3 linked regions of the Homo sapiens genome follow. The protein of the gene in region 3 interacts with the protein of the main gene of each other region in a pairwise test. Each region holds a gene or a part of one and is shown on either strand. Other genes may lie near its edges.

The links. Proteins that work in one complex are often made in the same cells at the same time.
Region 1: the proteins of SEMA6A (region 3) and SH3RF1 interact in a two-hybrid assay, tested with the Homo sapiens proteins (one study listed by BioGRID and IntAct).
Region 2: the proteins of SEMA6A (region 3) and ITSN2 interact in a two-hybrid assay, tested with the Homo sapiens proteins (one study listed by BioGRID and IntAct).

What each region holds. Positions count from the first base shown.
Region 1 is NC_000004.12:169,134,902-169,141,956, reverse strand, and holds part of SH3RF1 (E3 ubiquitin-protein ligase SH3RF1), read left to right. Parts: intron 1-5,336; coding exon 5,337-5,639; intron 5,640-7,055. UniProt on the Homo sapiens protein: Has E3 ubiquitin-protein ligase activity. In the absence of an external substrate, it can catalyze self-ubiquitination. Stimulates ubiquitination of potassium channel KCNJ1, enhancing it's dynamin-dependent and clathrin-independent endocytosis.
Region 2 is NC_000002.12:24,203,482-24,210,536, forward strand, and holds part of ITSN2 (intersectin-2), read right to left. Parts: intron 6,553-7,055; coding exon 6,337-6,552; intron 5,741-6,336; coding exon 5,619-5,740; intron 4,839-5,618; coding exon 4,756-4,838; intron 2,795-4,755; coding exon of another isoform or gene 2,766-2,794; exon of another isoform or gene 2,763-2,765; intron 1,817-2,762; coding exon 1,733-1,816; intron 938-1,732; coding exon 764-937; intron 303-763; coding exon 145-302; 3' UTR 1-144.
Region 3 is NC_000005.10:116,443,055-116,445,823, reverse strand, and holds the end of SEMA6A (semaphorin-6A isoform 2 precursor), read left to right. Parts: 3' UTR 1-2,269; downstream 2,270-2,769. UniProt on the Homo sapiens protein: Cell surface receptor for PLXNA2 that plays an important role in cell-cell signaling. Required for normal granule cell migration in the developing cerebellum.

The DNA of each region.
Region 1 (7,055 bases), on a different chromosome or scaffold from region 3:
CCTGTAGTCCCAGCTATTCAGGAGGCTGAGGCCGGAGAATGACGTGAACCTGGGAGGCAGAACTTGCAGTGAGCCGACATCACGCCACTGCACTCCAGCCTGGGCAACAGAGCGAGACTCCATCTCAAAAAAAAAAAAAAAAAAGCAAAAATTAGGCGGGCCATGGTGGCACTTGCCTATAATCTCTGCTACTCAGGAGGCTGAGGCAGGAGAATCACTTGAATCGGGGAGGCAGAGGTTGCACTGAGCTGAGATTGTGCCACTGCACTCTAGCCTCAATGACAGAGGGAGACCCTGTCTCCAAAAAAAAAAAAAAAGTATTTATATCAGTCTATAAGAAAAATACTAACAATCCAATAGAAATATGGATAGAGTATGGAAATAAGCAAATCCTAAAAAAAGAAAATAGATGCTTAATCTCATTAATAAATAGAAATACAAGTTAAAACAATATAATACACCTTGTTACTTCAAAAAACGATTTTTAAACTTACACTTTGATCTAGCAAATTCTACTTTTAGGAGTTTACCCTATGGATATGCTTGTACGAGCCTGCCAAGACATAGTAAATGGCAACGTCTCTATAAAATGGAATACCATGCTATCAGCCTATCCCTATTGATATGCAAAGATGTTCATGAAATATTATTTCATGAGAGAATAGAATGGATTGCTTGGTTTTATTTGTATTAAAAATCAATAAAGTAGATACATGTATAACAACATCTACATAGAAAATGAAGGATATGTTTTAAATTGTTAAATGGAAATCCATCTGGGAAGTGGGTTGGGAAGAGACAGATGTGGGGAACTGGCTGAGGCCTTTTACTTTTTACTTCATAATGTTCTATACCAAGGGTGTCCAATCTTTTGGCTTCCCTGGATCACATTGGAAGAAGAATTGTCCTGGGCCACACATAAAATACACTAACACTATCAATAGCTGATGAGCTTAAAAAAAAAAAAAAAAGAAAAGAAAAAACAAAACCTCAAAAAAAATCTCATAATGTTTTAAGAAAGTTTACAAATTTGTGTTGGGCTACATGTAGAGGACCGTGGGTTGGACAAGCTTGCTCTAGTGGGTTGTGAATTAAAATAATTACTTCTCAGATCTACTGTTTGTATCCTGTAGTGCTCAGAAGCTACAGACTGATTCATCTGTAAAGCTTCCTATAAAATAGTAACTATTCAACTTAGTTCTTATTAAAAAATTTTTTCTCTTTAAAATATTGTAAGTCCCGCCTTTTAAAAAAGGCTATATTCTCTCTAGCAAAGAGGGCAACCATACACACAAAAAAGTTTATTTTAATATTTCTTAAGCTGCCTTGTTGTTTTTATTAATATTATTTTTGTCAGTATTTCATCTCATATTTATTTATACTTCTGATAACTCTCAAAAACACATTCTTTCTACATTTTAGACTTTTTTCCAAAAAGGGGCATAAGAATTTTAAGAGTAATGAATAGAATCCCTGCTTTTATCTCCAGTATACTGAATTTTACCTTATATCCAACCTAAGTCTTATCAAAGCTCCTTACCAAATGCTTGGAAGAAGGTATTTTAGGATACAAATTTATTTTGCAGGTGATGAGTGTACTCCTAACATTAAAGGTCATAGTTAGATAAATGTCACAGAAAGCTCACACTACTGAGCTCAAACATTCATACATGAATTTTATCAAAATTCTACTAAAAGCTATCAGATTCTTGGTTTCCTATTGTTACCAAAGGTTGCTATACTTACAGCAAAAGCTGCTTTATGTTTCTGCCTGATTTACTTAATGCCTCTACCAAATAGTCTTAACTTTATGATTTTCTCTGGAACTGATACAGGAAGCAAGGAGCAGTGTTTTTTAATACTAATATGTGCTGCTTCAGAAGAAATCTCAAGTAATTTTAAAGTATGACAGCATCTTGCTAACAAATATTACTGTCCATGCATAAAAATCAAATGCAGAAAAAATATGCTAGGCTATTTAGAGGAATAGAAATCAAATAGAAAAATGAAACTTGTCCATTTAAAGTGAGATTATGCATTATACATGTGGAGAGCTAAAAGAGACCTAAAAATCATTGGCTCCAACTTACTTTATAGATTAGGAAGCTGTGAACAATAGAGGTAAGATGGCTCCCTTAAGGCCCCAAAGTTAGGTAATGGCTGTGCTAGGACTAGAACTGTGGTCTTCTACTTGCCAGTTGGCTTGTTACACCACTCCAGGATGTGTCTACCTGCATACACATGATTCTGCATAAATTTTTCCAAGCATCCAACCCTATGGTCCAGCAGTTCTACTCCTGGACATGTACCCAATATCCAGATGGGAGCTTATGTCCACCAAAAGACACATAACTAGATTATTCACAGCAGCATTGTTCTTAATAGCCACTGTCTATTGGAAGGAAGGAAGACAGGAAAGGAGGAAAGAAAACCCACATGTTAATCAGCAGTAGAATGGATAGATAAATTATAGTGTATTTACACAATAGAATATTACACAGCAATTTAAAAGAAAGAACTACTGACTCATGGAGCAATATGGATAAATCTCAAAAAGCATATTGTTGAGCAAAAGTAGCTAGACATAAGAAATTATGGAAAGCACTGTGTTATTTTTATGCCTGTTTGTAAGGTCCTTAAGGGCAGAGATCATTTCTCTGCATTTGTAGATCTTTAACACCAAGCACATTATTCAGCACATAATTGGTGCTCAGAGTCCAGGCACAGTGGCTCACGCCTGTAATCCCAGCACTTTGAAAGGCTGAGACAGGAGGATCGCTTGAGCTCAGAAGTTCGACACCAGCTAGATATCATAATGAGACCTCATTGCTACTAAAATTAGCTGGGTGTGGTGTTGCATACCTATAGTCCCAACTACTCAGGAGGTTGAGGCAAGAGGATTGCTTGAGCCCAGGAGTTCGAGGCTGCACTGAGCAATGAATGTGCCACTGCACTTCAGCCAGGGCAACAGAGTGAGACCTTTCCCCCCAGTCCCCCCAAAAATAGATGCTCAATGTGTATTTATTTTAATGGAGAATATATGATATGAAGAAAGACACAAAGGAAGCACCCAGTATTGTTCTGTTGAGAAAGCAGCAGGAAATATTGGGAACAATATTTTAATCCTCAGATGTTTATACCAGAGCACAGCATATGGAAACCTGAAATACTAACACAATGTTGAATATATAACTGACACTTGGCCAGCCAGGTATGATCATGATGAGACTATAGTAATTTTTCAGAACCTTTCAAAACAAGCACCACTAATGGAGTCTATTGTTTGACCCCAGAATTAATCTAAACATGATATCAACTAGATTTGATAGTTTCCTCTATTCATATTTTTTGCCTCAATGAGAAGAAAGTCTTCTCAACTCCCTCCTCTACTTCTTACTCACTGGGACAGGAGTGCTGAGTTGATCAGTCAGTTTCCAGCACACTGATTAGGTTTGCACTTTCAAAGATTTGTTTCTAGGTGTCTAAATAAGCTTATGGTGGAAGAAGACATTCTCTGGCTCCTTTTTCTCCAGCATTGCCAGGTGTGCTGGCCCTTCATTTCATGAGGATGTTGTGTTTGGGATGGAGGAGATGAAGTAGCTTTTCAATCTGCTTTGTTTCCAGGCTCCTTACACCCAACCTGTGCAGGAAAGAGGACCCTACCCCTCCATGGTTCACTGCAGTTTATTAGAGCTCTACAGTGAGGTTCAGGCCACTCCCACTATAATATAAAGCATTACTTTGCTTCATTTGGGCTTTTTATTCTCAAGGTGGGATAGCTAGACCAAGAAAGGATTTGTAAATTCTGGATCTCCTGGCCAATTGCCTTGAAAATGCTTGTAATAGGGCCACCCTCAACTAGAACCTCATTTTCATCCCTAAACACATATCGGAAGAAGTCTTTATGATCTTTCTCCCGCCATTGGTACTTCAGGCATTGACAGGTGTTATTCTGGCGTTACTGCCTATTATTTCTGAATGATTATCATGTGGAGAAACTTCTTAAAGTCTGAAGAAGAGATATGGTCATGTTTGATAAAGATTTATCTTACTAATTATAGATGAGACAAGCCACCTGAATTTGAGTCCCCAAGGAGCCTTAGGAACAAATTGTCAGTCAATTTGCAATCATCTGTAGAAGCAGTGACTGCTGAGCTCCAGTTAACATGGCTTTGTGAGGAAGCGGTTGTTCCAAAGCAAGTTCATTTCATAAAATATTGACTGAGAGAGTTTCCATTCTTCTAGTAGAGTGATCTTATCAACAGGATGAGAAGACATAGCCTGAACAATTTAAGTGGGAAAAATAGTACATGATATTATTTTATATAAAGACATTTGTGAAGTGCCCAATGTGTAATGCCGAGATGGAAAAATCACTGTTTTCCTTAATATTATATTTAAGTTACCTTTTAAAAGTTTATTATTTTGCATCTCAATTTTTTTTGAGAGGTTGAGCTATGTTTCCATTACTGTAATATCTGGGAAAGTTATATGCAGCTTATTGTCACTGAAGCTTTCCAGAAATGTTTTATTTTACCCTAGGGAAAACAAAAGGCTTGTGTTCTTTCCTTTCTTGCTGATAATATCAGTGGAGTGCACAGATTTTGACCCCTGGTACTCTTAATTTACACTGGGGCTTTTCAGATAGATGAAGTTAACTTGCCAATAGGACTTGAATTTCATGTCTTACCCTGTTATGATTTAAAGTACGTGCACATAGGATGATAGCTGATACAATGACATGACAAAAAACATATTAAGAGTTTCTGCCAGCTTTTTGTGAGGTTCTCCCAGAATACAGAAAGAAAGGCAGGAGGTAAATATACATGGAAGCACATGAGTTCATTTTGAATGGTTTTATTCTTTGTCTTCTTGCTCATTTTTACCAAACCCAGAAGTTGCCCCTTCATTGTTCAGTTGTGCTTTGAGCAAATACCCAACCATTATTGTGCAACAGGGTGTCACGAAAAGGGTGATAAATACACCATTTTGATTGCTCTTCTCGAAATTTCACAGTGAGCTGAAATAAATTTTCATTTGTTATTGGCAAGTTTTAAAATCAGACATTATGGAAATTCTTAAGAAAATTGTCTTTTACTCTTTCAGTCTTGCAATGGAATTGTTTATTCTTGATTTAATATCTACCTGTGATATAGATACAATGAAGTCCCAATATTGAGAGAAGAGATATCTCACATGGGAAAAACAGACACTGCATAGGCAAACTTTAAAGTAGTGACTTTAAATTTTGGATGAAATCATGTTGGAAATAAACCTCAGGGAATTCTTAGGAATTGTTTAACCTTCTTGTGTTGGTTTGTTGGTTGCTTTTGCAGTTTAACTCGGCTGCTAAGCAGCTGATAGAATGGGATAAGCCTCCTGTGCCAGGAGTTGATGCTGGAGAATGTTCCTCGGCAGCAGCCCAGAGCAGCACTGCCCCAAAGCACTCCGACACCAAGAAGAACACCAAAAAGCGGCACTCCTTCACTTCCCTCACTATGGCCAACAAGTCCTCCCAGGCATCCCAGAACCGCCACTCCATGGAGATCAGCCCCCCTGTCCTCATCAGCTCCAGCAACCCCACTGCTGCTGCACGGATCAGCGAGCTGTCTGGGCTCTCCTGCAGTGCCCCTTCTCAGGTAAATCCTCAAACAAGTGTTATATAAAAAGAGCTCACCCACAAAAGGATCAACTTACAAACATGTTTGCTCACTGGCTGACAAACATTGCTTATTTTGAACTTCTGAAGATAGTAACTTTTCTGGGAAGCAAAACCTGTCTTCATTTTGTAAGTGGAAAAATGGAGAAGGGAAAGCTAACTTGAGTGTATCAACCCAGAACTAACTACTCTGTCATTTTCAAAGGAAAGATCAGAACTTACAAGATGAGTTATATAATACTTACCAGTTTCACCAAGCAATCACTCAGCCTTACAGAACTTTCTCACAGTACTGCTTTGGGAGATCTTGCCAACTAAAACTTTATCTCCACCCAGATTTAAGATGCCATGGTCCAAACTCGTGACGTTTGTAGTTGCTTGTATCTATGTAACTTACCTTAATATGTAGGCTTCCCAGAATTATAGAGAAGAGAAAAAGAGCAAGGACAGAAAGAAGCATTTAATTTAAATTAGAAATTGACCTCACACTTTCTAAGTTCATTAGTTCATTACAACTTTGGACTGGTATGTAAAAAATAGCCACGCGTTATTCTTAGGTTTATAAAAATACATGGGATGACTGGGGCATTCATTCAATCATTCATTCATTCATTTGGCAGACATTTATTGAGCACTTTACTATTAGACCCTTCTAGGCACTGTGTATACCATGATATCTAAAATATAGCAATTTGCTGTGTTAGGCTTTAATTCTGCACTACAAAAAGAACCTAATTATAACCCTGCCCAAGCCACGGGGCTGCTATCATTATCCACTTAGGTGATGGCTGTATTTTGTTCAACTTAAAGGTCAAAGAATCTAGTTCAAAGCTGCCTGTCACAAGCAGAAGGAATTTCTTTCAAGTCTCATGTTTCATCTTGAAAATTCATGCAGATTTTACATTCTGCTCCACCATATAGCTATGGTGGTTTTTTTTTCTTTAAACATTAAAATGAAATTATGTCCCCTTAAAGAAAAAGAAAGAAATACCAGTCCTGGTCCTCAAAAAGTTTACATTCTAGTAAGTGCCTATTTTGGACCACAGAATGAAAATGTAAAATACAGTTTTTGATATCCCTTGCCATTTTTTTCTCAGCCTCATGTTTGTTTGTTTGTTTGTTTTTAATAGAGATGGGGTCTCACCTTGTTGCCCAGGCTGGTAACAAGCTCTTGGCCTCAAGTGAACATCCTACCTGGGCCTCCCAAAGTGGTGGGATTACAAGTATGAGCCACAGCCTCAGCCTCATTTATTTGACCCTGCTCCTTTAGATTTATACTGCGTGTTTCAAGTTAAATGCATTCACTTTCTGAATGGGATTGTGGGATTGTTGTTTTGTGGCATTTTTAGGTGGTAGGGCCATGAAACTCTTATTGAGAAATAAAGACACGCACAAC
Region 2 (7,055 bases), on a different chromosome or scaffold from region 3:
GTGCAGGAAAACAGAGCCCCCAGCGTGCATGGCTTTGTGAGGGGTGAAGCTGCATGGTGCTCCCTCAGCCCCAAGAGAGCGCAGTCTCTCATTCTCCAGCCCCAGCCTTGTGGGCTGTCCCGCTGGTGCTGTCCTTTAGAACCCCTACAGGAGAGTTTTTTGCTCAAAAAGCTGCAGGTCAAAACGGACCCAGACCTCCCCGGTGGGGACCTCATGCAGCAGCAGTCGGCGGGTCATAGGGCCTTTGCTTTCCTGTTCTGTTCGAATTTTTGCCACTGGAATTTCAGTACGACCCAGGAAATCTGGTGAATAAACACAGGAGAGTCAGAAGTCTTTCTTCTTTATAAAATCATTAAAGAGCTACATCCGGAAGAAGTGGATTCATAAAACCTTCAAATCTGAAACAAGGAACTTCTTTTGGCTCATGGCTGTTGAATGTCGTGAGTGGGTGTGTGGGGAATGATGGCAGGTTTGTGTGTGAGAAGCTGCCACATGGAATTCAAATCTCCATTCTGAGAATGCTCCAGGAGTGGTGTTCACGTCGTGTGTGTAGGGAGTGATGGGTCAAAGACCTGAAACACATCTCAGGCCACCTCCTCCCCTGAGGAAGGCCACCCACCTGCTGCCAAAGCGAGATGACACAGGCCTGTGTCACTTCCCTGAAGTGGCATGGGGTCTGCACACAGCTGAAGCCCCTAGATCTGGACTCCAGGATCTAGGAAACTGGGAAAGCCTTTAGATCCCCTGGCTGAGCGACACTTACCATCTGGTGAAAACTGGTCTCTGTCAAACAGGGTGAGACACAGCACGTCTTGGTAGAGATCCTTAATAAAGAACTGGCAGTTAAAATTCCACTTGGGATTGAGTGTGTCCTGGATGGTCCTGGTGGTGTAGCTCTGGGAGCCCATGCTGATTTCACAGTATGGGTTGCTCTTTCCTGAACAAAAACAAACCACAGACACATGTGGTGCATGCAGGTAAAACGAAGCGACTGACAGTGCCCTCCCTGAGCAGAAGCAGGATTCCAATAATGGGTCACTCGAGACCATGGCAGCAGGAGCCGCTGCCTGGGGCACCATATCCCTGTGGTCTAGTAACAGGGTCTCCAAGTTCCCAGTGCTGACAGCAGCATTAACTGGGGAGTGGCCGAGAGCTCCACCGCCAGGACCACTCCGCACGGAACAATCCTGGGTGAGTGTCACTGCAACCTGCTGCATGCTTCCTCGGCGCAGACACACTCGGGAAGGCGGGCACTGGCACTTACTGGGAAAACAGTGATAAGAATATTGGTCCAATATGCGCATTTTAGTGGCACTGGACACACTGTTAGAAAGCATTCCTTTATTCAGTGTTCAGAAGAGTCATCAGTGGCTGGGCGCAGTGGCACTTTGTCAGTGACAAAGTGCTGTAATCCCAGCACTTTGGGAGGCCGAGGCGGGCAGATCACTTGAGGTCAGGAGTTCGAGACCAGCCTGGCCAACATGGTGAAACCCTGTGTCTACTAAAAATACAAGAATTTGCCAGGCGTGGTGGTGCACACCTGTAATCCCAGCTACTCAGGAGGCTAAGCCTTGAGAATCACTTGTACCCCAGAGGCAGAGGTTGCAGTGAGCCAAGATCGTGCCACTGCACTCCAGCCTAGGTTATACACTGAGACTCTGTCTCAAAAAGTCATCAGCAAAAACTGGGGCAGGGCAGTTATGTCTGCTGAATGAATCAAGGCAGTATTTACCATTTGGTTTGCAGGCTTTTAATTCTGTAGCTTCAATGACATGCACCATCAGGCGCCCAATGCCTGAAGTCTTTTGGGAGCGGGCTACAAAAGAGGAAGACAAGTCTCATTAATCTCTTCTCCAAGGATGCAGACCCTGTCTTTCAAACCAACCATAACACTACCGGCTCCCTGTCCCCATCTGCCACTGCCCTGGGCCCAACAGCCCAGCATCTGGCTGCCCTGTGCCTTTCCCCAGGCTGTGTTGCCTGCTAGGAAGCCCCTGCTTGCTCTTTCTGCCCTGCCTGCTTTCTCTGCCCGTCAGCATCCTACTCATCCTTCAAGATGCAGGTCTGATCCCACATCTACCTCCCAGATCCCTTCCCTCCTCTGCATCCAGTATCCCTCGCTTATGAGCAGCCCACAGCCTGCTGGGTCTGAAATCGTGTGTAATGTCTGTCTCCTCTGCCAGACAGGAGCCAGGGTAGAGCATGGACTGTTTCGATCATCCTTATATTAACCCCTCAATTGCCTAGCAAATAGTAATATTAATAAAATAATACATGGTATTTGTGCAGCACTTAATAGCAGCTAACATTTACTGGATACTTACTTTGTGTTAGGCATGTGCTAGACTTATGTAAATTATATTATTTAAACTGCATAATTACCTGATAATGTAGCTCCCCATTTTACTGATGAGAAACACTGAGGCTTAGAAAGGACTGGAGTGTGATCCACTCAGAGCTGCTAAATGGCAGGGTCAACATTTAAACATCAGATACCAAAGTCCAGGCTCAGTTAAGCCTAGCACAGAGCCTGGCACAAAGTAATTGACAAATGTGGGAAGGACTGAACGCACGGACGATGCACAGCAACATATGCAGATGCTGATGGGAAGCAAAACTCAGGCAGAAAAACCGGATTGACATCTTTGGCCAATTAAGAGATCATATGCGTTATGAAATGATCAATCATTGATTTTTCAACAGCAAGCTTTTAAAGTACCATTAAAATAACACTAAATTAGCAAAAGCTGTTTTAAACATACCTTTTAGGAGTATATAACAAAATGGGGGAAACCTGAATAAAAAAACACATAAAGAGCTGCAACTATAGCAGCCAGGAAGCTGGTGGGAGGCCCAGGCAGGAGGGCAGGCTGCATGGGGGGGCCCGGCGGGAAGGAAGGTGGAGATGCAGGGGGCCGGCGGGGAGGAAGGTGGAGATGCAGCTGGCTCAGAGCACAGGCCCCCTGTGGGGTGGAGGCCACAGGCTGGCCTGGCACAGCTGGAGATGCAGCAGGGAGGTTGGGGCCTGGCATTCATGTGGAGGCTGGAGAAGAATGTGGGAGCTCTGGTCTGAAGGCCACGGTGGGGCAGGGTGGGGTGGGGGGTGCTTTACAAAGACCATTGCGGCTCCACTGAGCAGGTGAGTGATCTGTGCCATGAACACAGAGGACATCACCGGTGCAACAAATCTGGAGCCCCACTGGCATAAGTCACATGCTGGCCCCGATGTGGGAGGGAGTTGCCTTGAGGGAGCTTATGGCCATTAAGTGAGAAAAGCAGGGACTGAGAGGGCGCAAGCAGAGGCAACAGAGGATGAGCGCCCGGAGGATGATCGCAGCCTCAGGACAGCGGGGGGTCCAGGTAGAAGTCACACTGGTTAGGGCAAGAGGGTGTCATGGAGGAGGCTGTGTTTGACGTGGGCCTTGAAGGATGGGAAGAATTTAAGGTGAGGGCAGAGCACTTGAGCTGGAGGGGGAGCTCACATGGGAAGGCCAGGCAGGGCAACAATGGGCTGCTCAACTAGGCAGCTGGATGGGCCGGGCACAGGAAAGAGCTAGGGATGGGGCTGGGTGGCAGGTAGTAGTGGGGATGGGCCCTGAGTGTGGGGTAAGAAATGTGTCGTTAATTTGGGAGGCAATAGGGAAGATACTTCAGCAGGAAGAGGTATAAGAGCAGCTCTGGAAAAAAGAATACTCCAGAAATGAAGAGGATGGGTGGCAGAGAGGAAAGAGAGCCTTGTGCTGCAGCCTGGGTGGGAGATCGGGGGCCTGTGATACGGGGACAGGAAAGGGCGATGGGAAAGTGGCGAGGGAGGAGGACTGCAGTGCAGCTGACCAGGTGTGAGGTGCCAGGGAGGGGCCTGGGTGGCCAGGGACCACACTACTGTCCACAGAGGGTCCCAGGAGGAGCTGCTGCTGGAAGGAGGCTGGTGGTCCCTTGGGAAAAGCCGATGTGTGATGTGGGAGCAGCGGGGCAGGTGGTTCTCTGGAGGGTGCTGTTCAGAGGCGCGGGCTTGGGAGAGTGTGGCTAGCCTGACCCTGAAGCTGGGGGTCGGTGGGGTCCCCGAGGGAGAGCGCTACAGAGGTCGGGGAGAGGCCTGGGCAAGGGTGGAAGAAGAACTGGGAAGGCGGCCATGGGGTCCAGAGGGAAGGCAGCGCCTCAGTGACTGCCATCAGTGCAGGGAGCTGGGGCAGGGAAAGTGAGCTGAGCCACTAACTAGGCCACTGGTGTCACTGGTGGGGACAGGACGTGGACTGAAGTCTGGTGAAGTGAGAAGGGGGAGGAGGCAGGGGCAGAAGGATGGGGAGAGGGCAGACTTAGGGTCTAGGCCCCCTGGCTGCAAAGGGAGAGGGTGGATGGCAGGCCCTAGAGGAGGGTGAGGAGGAGCAGTGGCTGCTCAGGAGCTGAAGGGAGACAGACCACAGGTGTGGCATGTAATGGAGCACCACAGCCCAAGCAGAGGTGAGGTGAGTCATGGAGAGAAAGGAGTGGAGAAGGTGCAGTGGAGTGGGGGGGATAGAGGTGGTGCAGAGAGGGAGGTCCCGGAGCTGGCACTGCCAGCCCGTGTCTGTGTGGGCAGGAGCCCCAGGGAGGTTTGCAGTAGTAGCTTCAAGAGGGGAGGGCTCTCTGGTCTGATCCCGCAGCAGGTCTGGTCTTTCAGACCCGTCCCTATATCATCAGCCTGACTGCAGGAGCAGTGGCCGGCATTCCTAGGGCCCCTGGGGGCTGCGTCCCACCCTCCGGGCACCCTGATACCTTGGTAAGCTTTCTCACGCTTCTTCTTCTCGGTGTCGATGTACTGCTCAGACGCCGCCTTGATCTTCTGCACCCAGGCGGTCCTACGGGAGAAGCAGGGGCAGCCGTTGGCCGCATCCCACCCTCACAGGTCAGCGTGGAGCCCCAGAGCTCTGCACATGTTCTTCAGTCTTTTGCTAACCTCAACTTTCACAAGTTTCCTATCAAAGACCTGATATTAGTCAACTGAAAGATGCTTATGCTAATGGAGTATGAGAGCTGGTAGTGACCCTTCTTGGCTGACCACAAAATGCCAGGCACTCGCAAGGCGCTGGGACCTGGAGACAGATGATGCATTGGCCCCACGGATGATACCTGTCACGAGGGGTTCTAGCGCACACAGAGGAGCAGCAGCACCCCCCGGGTTGGCGCCGCGGAGGCACTGTTGGAGCTGCAGCCTGAAGGAAGCTGGGAACAGCGGGGATGGCACCCACACAAGGGCGCCTGAGGGGCGAAAGTCTGCAGGTGGAGGGACGAGGGCTGAGGCCTGTGGCCCAAGGAGGCCTCGGAAACCAGCAAAGCACAGTGGGCTGTCGCCTGCGGGCAGCCCCTGCAGGGACTGTAGCAGGGCCTCAGGTGCTGATCTGCCATTTGGGAAGGCTGCTGAGTGGTGTGGGGAGAGACTAGAAGCCGGGAAGCATGTTAGGAGGCAGCTGCAGTGACCAAGGCCTACCATGGGACTGGAGCAGAGGGGATGTGTTAAGAGAGGTTCAGGATACAGAATTAGTGGGGCTTAAGCACGGCTGGAGATGGGTTTATGGCAGAGGGAGACGTCCAGGCCTTCTCCCAGAGTTCAAGGCAGGCCACACATGGTCAGGACTGACCTCTCATTAATGTTGTCTGTTCGGAGGGTGTAGACCCGATCAATGTGGGAAATGTGGAAGACAGGCTCATCGCTGGAAGGGTCTGTGGGCAGTTTCACCAAGACTTCATTCAGGAAAATGGGCTGAAAGAATTAGGGCCAAAACACAGGCTGTGAGATGGGCTAGAACACTCCACCCGCCTATGTCCAGAGAGAGTTCTGTTTGTTCTGAAGAGCCTTGTTGAGAAGGAGAAAGGGGTCTAGCGTCTAAGGTCTTCTACACAGAACAAATGAAACCTCCATTTGTAAGAACAATGAAGCCTCCATTTCTGGAAAAGTCATTATCGAGGTGGGTCAGGTGTTGGGACTGGGTGGGGACAGGAGCTCCAAGCGCCCATGACGGCTGGTGCAAAAGGCTCTCTGCTAGCAACGCTGGTGCTGTGCTGGGGCTCGGCTTACAGAGACCCAATGCTGAATGCACACAGTGGTGAGCCCAGGTGTCACGCTGGCCAGGAGGAAGCCAGAATCTCAGCTGGAATCTGGCTGATGGCCTGTGGCAGGTGGGGAGTGCCCAGCTGCATGGGGCCCTTCCCGTGGGAAGCAGCAAAGGAAGCACGAGCGATCTGGAACCAGGTGAGGAGGGTCCCGTAAGGCCAGCTCAGGGTCTGCCAGGAAGGCCTTAAGATAGAGGCAACACCTCATTAGGCCCCTGATGCTACCCCCAGACGCGTGATACTCACCGTTTTATACATTTTGAATTGAGCATTGGACTTCGAGCTGAAAAGTTTCTCAGAGCCAGAGGAAACAGCAAACTGCTTGACCATGTAGGTAAGAAGCAGGAAGTCATTGAAGAGGAATCCGTGCAGTTCCTTGTTGCTCTTGGTCTTGTATAATTTCCCACTGTGTAAGAGCTTCCGGGGCCCCAGGCAGTTGGTGAGAGAGTTGAAAATAAGTTGCTTAAAGAGAAAGAAAATTTCACTTTTTAAATCCCGGCACAAACCATCCAGTGCCCCTGAGAGGCCAGTGCCCTGGGCCTGAGGATACTGTGGTGGAGTTTTCTAGGTGGGAATGTGGCTAGAATCATTCACTTTGCATGAAAGATCCTTAAATACATTACTCTTCAGAGTCCAAACTGGCCCAGTGAAAATCATTACTTCTAGCCACAGAACACTGATTCTACCAGCTGAATTCAAAGAACTCAAAACAAAAAATCCCAGTGTTCTCTCCTTAGGAGAAAGGAAGATGACAATCCAAGAAGGAATGCCCTTCATGCCTGCAATCCCAGCACTGTTGGGAGACAGAGGCGGGAGGATCACTTGACGCCAGGAGTTCAAGACCAGCCTGGCCAACATGGTGAAACCCCAGCTCTACTAAAAATACGAAAATTAGCTGGGCATCGTAGCAGATGCCTGTAGTCCCAGCTACTTGGGAGATGGAGGCCAGAGAATCGCTCCAACCC
Region 3 (2,769 bases):
AACTATTTAACGTGAAATCCATTAACTGGAATAATTGAGTTTCTTTATTTTTACAATAAATTCACTGAGTAAATAAGTTGGAGCTGGAATTCTGAGCTTTGTGTTTGGACTGTCTGGTCTGTAGCTAAAGGAAAAAGTTAGGAGGGGAATATTTATTTAAATCTATCAGTTCATTGCCTGGTCAGGTCTCTGGCCTATAAACATGCAAAAAAACTAATTCATGTTAAAGTCCTTCCAGATCCTAATTTCTAAAGCAATCAGGAGAGAAAGCTTTTAGAATGGCACATCATATCTCATTGATGCCAACATGGTTTTGTCCATGGTTCTGACTTTCTGTGAAGGCACCAGCTTGCAATATGCCATCCCATTTCACCTTGCATGTGAGACAGCAAACAAAATCCACAAATGGTGTGAACTAATATGCTGGCTGCTACCTTGCATAAATTAATGATTTGATCACACGGGTTCTTCGTGGGGTTACATCTGTGAATAGCCTGTTTTCCACATGTAAATTTGTGCCTTACACCTTGAGTTGTGTACACTTGTAAACTCTTTATGATCAACTGTTCCCCCTTTTGAAATAAGTGCAGATATTTATTTAACCCTCCCTTCCCCACCCTCTGCCCCACTTCCAGCCCTCTGAAAGATTGGAGTCAAGCAGATGGAAGAATGCAGTGGTGATAGTTGTCATGCGACAGCCTGAGAACGCTGGGCAGCACCACACCCTCCAATTCACACTGCCTTCTAGTTGTGCCAACTGGAACCACCCTTTGGCTGTGCTGCGAAGCATGGACCCCAGTGTTGTTGTGGGTGTGTCAAATCCCCTTTCATCCTCAAGAGCTCCCTGCTTCCCTTAGATTATTTCAATACGGTGATATCCTTATTTGCTAGCAGAAAAGGGACTAACGTCCCATTCCTCTTTTCTGCTGCGTCCACTGGCTAGAGAGCAGGCGGTGCGCGGTTGGGCAGACACCTGGGAGGAGTCTCCAAGCCATGTGCACAGCACACACGTGCAGTGCACACAAAGAAATGACATGGAAATAGATGCAGGCAGGCTGGTCCCTGCTGTGATTAACGAGTAACTCCAAGTACAAGGCCGACCACAATGGATGCTGCAAAAACGTTGACTGGGGCAAAGGATTTTTTATTTTATTTTTTATTTTGTTAATTATGTTTTTAGGGGATGGGAGGTGGTGTGTGTTTTTCTCCTCTTGGTTTTCATTTGCTCAAGCACACAAAAGGGACTTTTGTTTACTCTATCATGAACAAAGGAACTGTCCACATACTGTAAACCATGAGCAGTGTTGTTGTTGTTTTTTTAAACAGTATATTTGGTGGTCTCTTTGTCTGCTTTTATTTCCAGTTCGATCTTCTGGGTTTAGTTTTGTCTTTAAAAAGAATTCAAAAAAAGACTGACAATGACAGTTTTGAGTTGGATAGTGAAAAAGTGGAGCCTCCATAATCAGTGTGGTTGCCTTCAGACCTGAGTACTTAGCTGAGGGTGGGTGAGAGCCCTTTGTTCCAAAAGTCCATTAGTTTTGCTGTTGTTTAGGAGTAGGTGGTTGTTGTTGTTTTTACTTTTTTTTTTTTTGGCTTTTGTAATGGAATCCATGTTCACATCCTGTGAACTCTGTCTCCTGAAACCCTGAAGTATTTCCTAGAACCTGAAATATTGTTTTCTTCCTTGAATTTTCTCTAGAAATGCAGAAATTAGGAAGGTGATGGGTCTGTATCCCCCTGCCCCCTTCTTTCCCATGCTTGACTCCCGAGAGTACTGGCAGTGCAGCACCCATCATTGACGTAAGCGGCTGTCTTGTCCAGTGTTTGTAGGCATCACTGCCTCAGCTGTTAAGGAGACCTGTGTCAAAACTTACATCCACATTCCTACACCCCCACAACCCATCACTTCTGGTGTTAACCCTAAAATACCCACATGTATTGAGCTGGTCTTCTGCATTTAAGTATTTCTCCCCAGTTTTTTTCCCCACTGTGTGTGGGGGGAGGGTCCATAAACCCGAGTGTGCCTTTGCTTTCCACCCTTGCTAGACACTGGTAGATGCAACAAACTCAGATTTATATTTGTTGTAAAGTTGTAAAAATATTGTGATGTCACCAATTTTCCTTCCATCTCCACATCCCCTAACATCTGATTCACGACTTAATGTATGTTGTAAGAAAAGAAAAAAGAAAAGAAAAAAAGGGAAAAAAGAAAAGCAAGGAAAAGGCTCTTTATTACTTAAAAGTAATAAAACCTGACTGTTCTATATTATCTTTTGTGTCCTGAATGCTTTTATTTATCTCTTAATTTTTCCTTTTTAAGCTGCTCTCCTCCCCACCCTTTGTGGGTATGATGCTACTCTTTCCTCCATTTGTATCTGGCTTCCAAAGCATACATAACGGTATAGTTTGATGTATTTGTTTGCAGTGTCCACACCCAGCCACCCCCACCCAAATTATTGACGTGTTTCTCTGCTCAAACCCAGCCTGGAGCAGGATTTTAGCAGAAGCCACCGGTAATTAAAAAGCAGAGCATGCATTGGCTCCTTCTATTCATTTTATGCATTTTCTTTTTATGGGCTTGTTCATCATCAAACATTTATGGTAGGCTTGATAGTTTAAGAGATCAAGGCTAGGATTTTAGTATGTAGGGTCCACTAAAAATAGATCCTTGCACAGATGTGACTTCAGTCTTCTTACATATTAATAAGGTGGAGGGGGCTGGATTTTACTCCTTGTTAGCATTTATCTTTTGTAACACAGAGGGTATAT